2 separate regions of the Homo sapiens genome follow, and region 1 is linked to region 2. Evidence: fine-mapped expression QTL. A gene starts in region 2. The other region holds a variant in brackets. All regions are shown on one strand. Distances are from middle to middle.

The links. PIP is the estimated chance that this variant, and not a neighbour inherited with it, causes the effect. A credible set is the group of variants that fine-mapping cannot tell apart.
Region 1: its variant is the best candidate, but not a certain one, in a credible set for the expression of TET2 in whole blood (INTERVAL, PIP 0.60).

The regions. Positions count from the first base shown.
Region 1 is chr4:105,181,827-105,187,210 of GRCh38, forward strand. All of the region lies in intron 1 of TET2 (tet methylcytosine dioxygenase 2), which reads left to right. The region is part of intron 2 of TET2-AS1 (TET2 antisense RNA 1); the gene reads right to left. Among named protein-coding and RNA genes, the nearest start is that of TET2, 38 kb to the left of the region's middle. The variant C/A (reference allele first, on the strand shown) is at 3,370.
Region 2 is chr4:105,143,674-105,149,057 of GRCh38, forward strand. TET2 (tet methylcytosine dioxygenase 2) reads left to right here and starts at 3,203. Exons shown (of 11, transcript NM_001127208.3): 1 at 3,203-3,306. LOC124900868 reads right to left here. Exons shown (of 3, transcript XM_047416559.1): 2 at 1,822-3,288. The coding sequence ends at 2,600. RefSeq lists enhancers at 1-70, 3,215-3,384, 3,728-3,777 and silencers at 2,465-3,144, 4,108-4,177.

The DNA.
Region 1 (5,384 bases), 38 kb after region 2:
ATTCACTTATATTACCCTCCAACCTTAAGTATGATTGAATTTATAGCTTTTTATACTACTTTCTTTATTTAGGGAGGAGTGTATTTAAATTCTGTTATCTCGGTTATTACTTGAAAGTTCAACCTCATACTTTCATTTTTATATAATTTTAATATTATGAAAATATTTTATGTAATTTTATGTATAATTCGAAAACATTTTTAAATATTGCATCTTTAAATTTTTATTTCTTTTATCAAATTTTCCCTATCATTTGTTCTCTGGCTACAACCAAAGTTAATAGTTACATTTTTTTCCAGTGACAAATGGTAATTTGCAAAGACTTGTAACAGTTGCTTAATACTTTTTTATCCCTTATTTAAGAATCATGCAAACAACCAGAGCTGATAGGCAGCAGGTGCACATGAGTGTGGCTGTGCTGATGGTTACTGAAAGATTTCCAAGGTAGCTAGTAATTCTGCTACCCTAAGCCACTATAGCTCCTTCCCCATTACTCCCTGGGTCTACCCACCATCCTGCAGCTAGAATAATAAATGGCATGTAGGTTCCTCTAGGATCCTCCTCCAGCACTATGTCTCATGCCTGGACATATGAGCTGTTAAATATTTTGATTATCACTCCTGTGTGGTAAGGGAGACGTCTACTTGTCGTAACTTGATGTTTACTAAACTACTTTTAAGATTACCTTATGATAAAAGTAGACACTTGCAATTTTGCAGAATGCATAGTTTGTTTTTAACAAACCAGGTAAACATAACTGCAGAGTTTTCCTATACGTTTTGAAATCTTTAAAAAAGTATTTTTTATTTGCCTTTCTATTAGAAATAGATTAGATAAAAATTTCCTTGTTTCAATTTTTAGAATGAACATTAGAGAATATTGTTACTGAAGGAATTTTTTTAAAAATAGTGACTGATCAAATGTCAGCAGCTTTATACTATAGTGTAAAATTTTATTTTGTAGTTTGCCATCCCATTAAGCATTAGAATTTTTATAATTGATCCTTTGATGTTTATATTCATGATATTAATGTAATGTCTTTAAACCTTAGCTCATATAGGTCATATGACTTAAAGCATCCTTAGATGAAGATATTTGGGCTATAAATAATTTATGACATAAGTGATTTAAAAATTCATTCTTTCCATCCATTTTGAAGAAATTGTAAGGTAGGGTTCATGTATACCTAATACTTATCCCCCCAAAATACGAAAAATAAAATCATTTTTAAAATATCTGGGTTAATGCTATAGATTGGAAGCAGTTTTTAAAAAGCACTTAAAGTCTACCAGTTTATTGATCCTCAATCTGTGGCTGTTTTAAATGGATGCAATTAGCAGTTCAGTCTAAGAGAACCATGGTAGTAGACTCATTACTCCCCAGAAACCATTACATCATTTTGTAATATTAAATTACTAAATATAAGGAATAGAATATATATTGTAAAAATTGCTTTGGAATCAATAATAAGTATTGTGGCTATCAATTATAGTTATATATTACAATGTAAGGGATATCCTTTTATAAACTTAATATCACACAAGTAGACTTAGAATAATTCCATTAATATAATTTTGCTTGTGTTTTTATACCTATTCATTTCAATAACTCTTTTTCCTATATATATTTTTTATCTCAAATTCGATAGTATCTAAATCATGGAATCATAAAACCTTAAAGCTGGGTTGGAACAGAAATAATACAATTTAACATCTTATAGGCTCTCTAGTCCTCAGTTTCCCTAAGTGATCGGCTCAAGATCATGAATTTATGGAGGATTAGAGTCAGAATTAGAACCCAAGATTAATTTATACTTTGTTATCTCTTCTACAGCCTACCCCCTTAGTTTGCCTGTGGGTTTATGGAAGTTACAGGAGAGACATTCTGAGATTCAGCTAAAAACCTAGCTCCCAATAGAATTATTGCCCTGTAGTCAGCCGCGCAAATACAATCACAAATACCTGAAGTTCCTTGTGTGAAGAAAAAGAAAATGACTATTAAAGCATCAAAATCAATGCAAGTTACCTTTCTTTGCCCCTTTCTTCCCCTTTCACTCCTTTCTTCTCCTATACTACTTGAAATTTCTAGCGGGGATCTCTAAAATGCCTGGATGTTAGGAATGGTAAGTCTATTGTAGAGAATTATATTTTCTATTTTAGTGGATGAAAAATAAACCATACCCTTAAGAGGCTTTTCAAAGTTAAGATTTTGAGCACATCCTTCATTGGCCCAGTCTCTGACCAGTGAGGTCAAGTATTAGCCAGTGTCAGAATGTCGTGAAAAGTTTGTGTTTCAGATGCAGAATTTTTTTTTGCATTTTCTGTGTGATGTTTATAGGGTATTTTCTTCTGAAATGTTTTCCATCTTGGTTTTTAAAAATATCTATTATTTTAAAAAATATTCCCTCATAACTTCTTTTTATTTTCGGAAACTATATAAATTGATCTGATAATCTATACACAATGCCTTGTGAATTTATACCTGTACCTCTCATGTTCCAGTGTTTGGTTCTTAAATAATCACTTTGTATAATGGAAATACTATGTTAAATTGTTTATAACTGGTGGTTGATATTTCAGCCTTGTTTGGCTATCGTAGTTATATAAAGACTGTTAATTAGAAACAACCTCATATGGTGTATGCTTGTTTTTATCTTCATGGAATTTGTTCTGCAAACACTGAGTTCTTTACTGGGAGTCACCACTTTGTCTATGTTAGGAGGAGCAGGAAGTGAATACATTTAAGGTCTTTAATTTTCTTCTTAAAACTTTGACTACTGTAGTGGTTTTTTAAAGCATTAACAGGAGAATAGCCATCACTGCCAAGTAGCTGACATTCTGAAATAGCACTTCCCTTTAGGCACTGTACAGTTGGAATCATTTACTTGCAGAGAGGTGTGTGTGTGTGTGTGTGTATTTATGTGTGTACTCATGTGTATAAGAATAGGAGAAACACTTTGTGGGCATATCCTGCTGAGGTGAGTAACGTGCTGATTAGTGAACTCCAGTCTCATCCCATTTAAACCTGGAGGAGAACCACATCAAGCACAGAAGCAGCCAAAGCAGCATTTCAACAGGAAGGAAACATCTATTACTGGGGCTTTGAAGAAACATGCCATGAAGGTGTACTAATATCACAAAGGGAAGGGAAGGACTAAATTCAGCATGATAAACAAAGTCCCTTTTTTGTAACGGAAGTGTTTGATGATGTTTGATCAATGGTGGATCTATCTCTTGAAAGGAAAATGCATTTAAACCCCAAATGGAGGATTCTTATATAAGGTGCCTAGCTTGTAATGATATATTCATGTTTATAGGTAGAGTGACTGGTTTTTAGAGAAGAGGTTTTTTTTTTTCCTTCATTTTTGAA[C/A]GAAAACTTGTCTGTCTCTAGGCTTTGAAATGTAGAATTATTTACCTTTCCCCAAAATGAAATGTTTCACTGAATCTCCTACAAGCTTGTGGAGGCCATGAAGCATGTTGAATAAGAGCACAGGCTCTGGAGGCCCTGCCACCCACAAAGGGTGTGCTAAGGTAAACAACTGATAGTATTTTGAAAATTAGATGACTTAGAATCCATTCAATAAATTTTAGCTATTTTTATTGTCTTTTTTTTCTAAATCTATTTGGAAAATATTGCAGATAAAGTAGATAATACCTTTCTAAAACACAGTGAGACCAGGCGCAGTGGCTCATGCCTGTAATCCCAGCACTTTCGGAGGCCGAGGTATGCGGATCACGAGGTCAGGAGATCGAGACCATCCTGGCTAACACGGTGAAATCCCGTCTCTACTAAAAATACAAAAATTAGCCAGGCGTGGGGGCATGCGCCTGTAATCCCAGCTACTCAGGAGGCTGAGGCAGGAGAATGGCGTGAACCGGGGAGGCGGAGCTTGCAGTGAGCCAAGATCGCACCACTGCACTCCAGCCTGGGCTACAGAGCAAGACTCTGTCTCTAAAAAATAAAAAATAAAAATAGAACAGTGAATAGTTTATAAAGATAAAATAGAATAGGCTTCAATTTAGGGAACAAAGGAAAATATGTTTAGGAATGATATTATGCTCAAAATGATTGCAACTTTGATGGTGAAGTGTATTTTATTCAATTAAAAATGTAGATATGGCTGGGCGTGGTGGCTCACACCTGTAATCCCAGCACTTTGGAAGGTTGACGCAGGTGGATCACTTGAGGTTAGGAGTTTGAGACCTGCCTGGGCAACATAGTGAGACCTCATCTCTACAAAAAATAAACAAAAAATGTGCTGGGTGTGGTGGTACATGCCTGTAGTCCTAGCCACTTGGGAGACTGAGATGGAAGGATAGCTTGAGTCTGGGAGGTCAGTGCTGCAGTGAGCCGAGATCGTGCCACTGCACTTGAGCCTGGGTGACAGAGCAAGACCCTGTCTCAAGAAAACAAACAAAAAAACAAAAACAACAGTAGATATGTGTGTGGGAATGAGAACATTTAAATGTGCTCATCGGCTTAGATTTTTCTTTAACCCCCTTCATGGCCCTTATCTTAACCTCTGTCTTCAGCACTACCCTTCATATGTTTGTTCCGTTTTATCTTCTAAGTGATTTTTTTATAACTCTCAATGTATCATGGCAGAAGGAAAACTCAGTGTATAAGCTGACTGTATTTTGCATTTTCTTTTTTTTTTTTTTTTTTTTGAGATGGAGTCTCACTCTGTCACCCAGGCTGGAGTGCAGTGGTGCGATCTCAGCTTATTGCAACCTCCGCCTCCTGGAGGCGATTCTCCCGCCTCAGCCTCCCCAGTAGCTGGGACTACAGGCTTGCACCACCATGCCTGGATAATTTTTATATTTTTAGTAGAGACGGGGTTTCATCATGTTGTCTAGGCAGGTCTCAAACTCCTGACCTCAAGTGATCCACCCACCTTGGCCTCCCAAAGTGCTGGGATTGCAGGCATGAGCCACCGCGGCCTGGCTTCATGATCCAAAATAGCATCATTAAGCTTCTCTTTCAAAACATGTATATAAGCCTGTGAGTCATCACTGTATTTATCAGAATATTATCATATTGGAGACTTTGCAAAGCTGAACAAAGCCAGAATTATTGGCTACTGAGGAACTATATTCTAGCAAGAGACTATTCTATTTGTTGGGGATCACCTCTTTTTACTAAAGGGGACTGTTTTGGGCATATAAAACTAGAATTCATGGTTTCTCCTTGATAGTTTGCCAGCTTGATTCCCAGTCAACCAGATAACTGCTGGTAGTGACACTCATGTCCTCCAGGACTCCCAATCTTGTGCCAGCTCAGAGAGGGAAATCCCCCTAGAACTGCTCACACCATTCCAAGAACCACAAGCACCACCTTGGTATAGTTAAAAATGTGATACCAACTCAAATTCTGATAAAAACAAG
Region 2 (5,384 bases):
CAAGGATCTCTCTGTATGGAAGCAGTGCTGCTATTTCTAGTTTGAGGAAAAAAATGGTAAAGAATTTGATAATTAATTGTTGTTAAAACAGCAAATTATATTTTAAACACAGATTGTCCACACCTGTAGGAGGAGGAATCTCAAGAATGCACACAATTAATAAAAGCTGGTTCTGAATTACCCATACAAGTGCGCACTGCGTTCAGTAAACAACTGATTTGCAAACTATATCCTTTCTTTCCCAGAAATAGCAGGAGGAAGTTTTTCAAATCAAAAAAAAAATCTAACTAAAATATTTTATACGTGAAGGCCTGCAGAATTTTACTTCCTTTTGCTGTTGAAAAATCACAATAGCCAAGAGGAGTAATGTATTTTATTTTAACTTTTAAAAAGTCATGATGGTTAAGGGTAGAGTGGAGGTGCAGAGAAAGAAGTTGGCAAGAAAATGTTCAGGGCCTGTTGTAAAACCAACTGCAACCCAAACATGATTCCAAATAGGTAAGAACACCCTGTTACAACAGAGAGCAGTTTTCAAAGAAGAAATGAGAGGGAGGTGACCTGAAAGATCATTTCCCAGTTATAACTAAAGGAACCTACGGATACTTTTATATTAAACACATGCTAATATAATATTTTCCACATATTATTAAATGTAAGAAGATATATAATTATATACTTCTATAGTCAGAAACAAAATAACTCCTAGAAGTAAATGGTTTGTTACTGTAGTAGTAGTAACTACCTGGGCACTTACCTAGTGCTCTTATTAAAAACTCACCACAACTCTGCTGTCTTACAGGTTGTTGAACAGATTGAAAGAAACCGATACCGAGAGAGTTAAGTAAAATGCACAAGGTCACACTGGAAAAGATAGAGTTAAGAGTCACTCAGCTCTGTAAAACTCCAAAGCCCATGTTTCAACAACTCTGCAATACTGTGCACTGTATAAATGTATGTTGTGGTCTTGAGAGAACTTTATTTCCTGGACTTGAAAAATACATCACAAGCCGGGCGCGGTGGCTCACGCCTGTAATCCCAGCACTCTGGGAGGTCAGGAGTTCCAGACCAGCCTGGCCAATATGGTGAAACCCCGTCTCTATTAAAAATACAAAAAATAGCTGGGCGTGGTGGCGCACGCCTGTAGTCCCAGCTACTCCGGAGGCTGAGGCAGAAGAATCGCTTGAACCCGGAAGGCCGAGGTTGCAGTGAGCCGAGATCGCGCCACTGCACTCCAGCCTGGGTGACAGAGAGAGGCTGTCTCAAGAAAGAAAGAAAAGGAAAGAAAAGAAAGAAAGAAATAAAGATCACAAAGAACTTTCAAACAGCTTAGATTTTAAAGTGCATTAACAATTTCCAAGACCTAAGTGACGCTTTAGTGTACAGCTAGAAAACATGGAATGTCATTCCCACCTGAAATGTTTAAGGGAAAATGTACTATTTCCTTAGTTTGTGCAAAATCTGAAATCTGAGTCAACTTTGTTTCAAAATGGAATAAACAAAGTTTGATTGGACCCACTAAACATTCTTCTTAGCAACAATGCGACACTTGCAAGGAGTTCCCTTTTTCACACTCTTCAAAGAGGAAATATTCCGATTTCGTAAAATTAGGGCTTCGCTTTTAAAAAAAATTACAGACCAAAAAAAGTGTGGTTACACAATATAACTAGTATTGACTTAAGGGTACTGTGATCACCATGCAGTGATCCCATAAAAGATGTGACCAAAATACCCACTTAAAATTTGAACGTCAGTCATGTAAGAACATGTAAAAGATGAAGGGAATATTTCAAAAACGACTATCTGACGTAATATGATACTTACTATGACTCATATGGGCTTTGTTCTTCATCTCATCTTCAAATAAAAAGTTGATGATTAGAAAAAGGAGCATTAGAAGGGGGAAGTAACACTACTCGGCAATAGAGAAAAACTCCGGTCAAAGGAAGAGCATAGTTACAGAGCTCCGAATGTCAGGGAAAATCAAGCATCCGTCATTCGGAATTAGCTCTGTATCGGTCGGTTTCTTCATTACTTAATTGTACGGGGGGAAACTACTTCAAAGTAAGGGCTCTTACGAGAGGCAACTTAAGCATTTGAAAGTGCAGGTTTATTTCCTCCTAGCGAGAAGTAGGGGGTCACTAGTGAGAAACCTATTTCAATCTGTGAGACGCCCCCTTCTACTCAGCCCACGTGGCTAAAGTAAACAGAAGGTGGGCCGGGGCGGGGAGAAACAGAACTCGGTCAATTTCCCAGTTTGTCGGGTCTTTAAAAATACAGGCCCCTAAAGCACTAAGGGCATGCCCTCGGTGAAACAGGGGAGCGCTTCTGCTGAATGAGATTAAAGCGACAGAAAAGGGAAAGGAGAGCGCGGGCAACGGGATCTAAAGGGAGATAGAGACGCGGGCCTCTGAGGGTAAGGTGGGCGCAAGCGGAGGTGTGGTGCGGGGAGAGGTGCCAGTGGGTGGAGGCGGGGGCCAGAGCGAGGGCACGTGCGGGTACACTCCGGAGGAGGTGGGTGCGCGCGGGGGCGTGTGCGCGGGACCTCGAAGTGGTGGTGGAGTGCAGACCAGCAAAAAGTTTCAAAGGGAAATCTTAGATGTCACGTCTTTGTCCAGGCACCCGTGCCATCCCAACCTCCCACCTCGCCCCCAACCTTCGCGCTTGCTCTGCTTCTTCTCCCAGGGGTGGAGACCCGCCGAGGTCCCCGGGGTTCCCGAGGGCTGCACCCTTCCCCGCGCTCGCCAGCCCTGGCCCCTACTCCGCGCTGGTCCGGGCGCACCACTCCCCCCGCGCCACTGCACGGCGTGAGGGCAGCCCAGGTCTCCACTGCGCGCCCCGCTGTACGGCCCCAGGTGCCGCCGGCCTTTGTGCTGGACGCCCGGTGCGGGGGGCTAATTCCCTGGGAGCCGGGGCTGAGGGCCCCAGGGCGGCGGCGCAGGCCGGGGCGGAGCGGGAGGAGGCCGGGGCGGAGCAGGAGGAGGCCCGGGCGGAGGAGGAGAGCCGGCGGTAGCGGCAGTGGCAGCGGCGAGAGCTTGGGCGGCCGCCGCCGCCTCCTCGCGAGCGCCGCGCGCCCGGGTCCCGCTCGCATGCAAGTCACGTCCGCCCCCTCGGCGCGGCCGCCCCGAGACGCCGGCCCCGCTGAGTGATGAGAACAGACGTCAAACTGCCTTATGAATATTGATGCGGAGGCTAGGCTGCTTTCGTAGAGAAGCAGAAGGAAGCAAGATGGCTGCCCTTTAGGATTTGTTAGAAAGGAGACCCGACTGCAACTGCTGGATTGCTGCAAGGCTGAGGGACGAGAACGAGGTCAGAGCGCTTCTCTTATGCCGCGAAACTCTCCCTTTCTTCTCCCCTTCGCTTTTTCTCGGGCTTCCAGGGACTGGGGAGCAAACCCTGTAGTGTCACCCACAAATACCAAGAGGGAAGAGGGAAGCTTCACAAATTACTGGAGCCTCTTCAACATGGCTGACAAATATAGTTTTAATTCCCTCTACCCCTTTTAAACCTGTAGTTCTGTGTTCTCTTCTCTCCTCCTAATGCTCGTCCCCTCATCTCCCAGAAAACTTACCTTTGTGCCTCCGACGAGCCGGTTTCCCGGCCTTTTTTAATCCTCAGAAAAGTGATTTTTAAATTTGCTTTCCTTTCTAAAATAGTTCAGCTTTGGGGGCACTACTTTTCCCTTTAATCCTCTTCCCCTGTTTCTTTCGTGTAAGTGAAACGAGTCTCCCGTTTATCCTGAACAACCTCAGAGAGAACACTGATAGGGTGTTTTTCGACCCTTTTATCAGCTGTAGGGTCTGGGTCTGGGTTTGTGTCTGCCTCCTCCTACCTTCTTATCCCCCTTTAGGGGGCTGTACGAAGTGAATGTCACAGGGAGTGGAATTGGAGTACACTGAGTGGGTTTTTTTTTTCCTTAAGTCCGCGCGTTTTGTTAGCGGCGCTGAGTGAAAGAGGAAAGAATAGTTTCTCTGGTTCCCCAAACAAGACCAGAACTCACTTTTCTCAAGGTACATAAGTCAGCGCTGGGCTGAGCCTTCCAGCCTGGGGAATGTATGTAAGAGAATTTATGGACAAATCTGTGTCCCGGCTTTGTGCTTCTCCCGAATCAGCTTCGTTTGGTTCCTTGGTAAGTGACAGGCAGACACAAAGGCAGGCGCAGGCCCGGGGAGGGGGCGGGAGGGGGTGGGGAGCGCAGCGTTGGAGTTGCAAGACTGCAAGGTCAGGGGCGCCTAAAGAAATGAAACCCAATCCCAGCAAAGAAGTGAAGAGCAGATTTATAACAGTCCCATCCAAATTTCTCTTTGGCTTCTCTCTTTGGTCTTTCATCTCTCTGCCTTTCTCTCTGTGTCTCCTCTCTACTCTTTCTTCTCTCTCTCTCATACACATACACACACACACACACACACACACCTCACTCGCATCTTGCTGAATCTTTTCACTGGGACTGCTTGTCTAGTTTTATTAAGCTAATAGGGTTTGTATGGAGAGTTTTCTACCTATGACATAATGAAGTGTGGCCTGGATAGACTCCTGGAAAGGCCGAAAATGAAATATAAGTGTTATTTGCTGGTTATTCCCCTCATGATATACTTTTAATTACATTGAGGGAGTTCTCCCTTCTTCATCTAATGTTTAAGAATTGAGAAAAGGCTTATTTTCCAGCGGTAAAATTTAGTGCATAAAATTTAGTGAAATATTTATATATTTACGTGTCTAGGGAGTGGAATACATTCATGAATTTAATATCTCAAATCACACATTGTGCTTTTTCCCCTTCAGTCAGGGATTATAATGGGAAACCCAAATTCAAAGATATTCATCAACAAATGATCCATCATAGGAATAAGATTGTATCTTAAGGGAAGTTGGGATTCACAGAGAAAAGACATTGGTTTGGTTTGGTGTGATACTGTGGGTATTGTTGCCTGGCTAATGAAATCATTACATTTGCATTTTAATGGAAAGTTGAAATACTAAGGGGAGTTATGTTCTTTTACATGTTTGTATGTGTGCTTAATAATGTTTGGAATAGAATATAAATTTAAACACAATAAATATTGATTTTTTTAAATGTTAATAAGCAGAGAACGGTTAATGAAGTGTTGGATAATCAAACTGAAGTTTAGAAGACAATTTATAGGATTAAAAAATGGATAGAAGGAAAAACACAATAATAGATATTTCTCCATAAGTCGAATTTCCAAAACTATTTGTCCTCGATAGTTCACTTTGTAACTTTCTATTTTGATCTTTGTTAATTTAATGTAGTTTGCTTTAATCATTGATACGTGGGGTTCTTTCACATGATTACAAGGGAGAAGCATTACTCATCTCTGTGGAATAGAAACGGTTCATTGGTTAGTTCTTATTTGCCCTAAAATTAA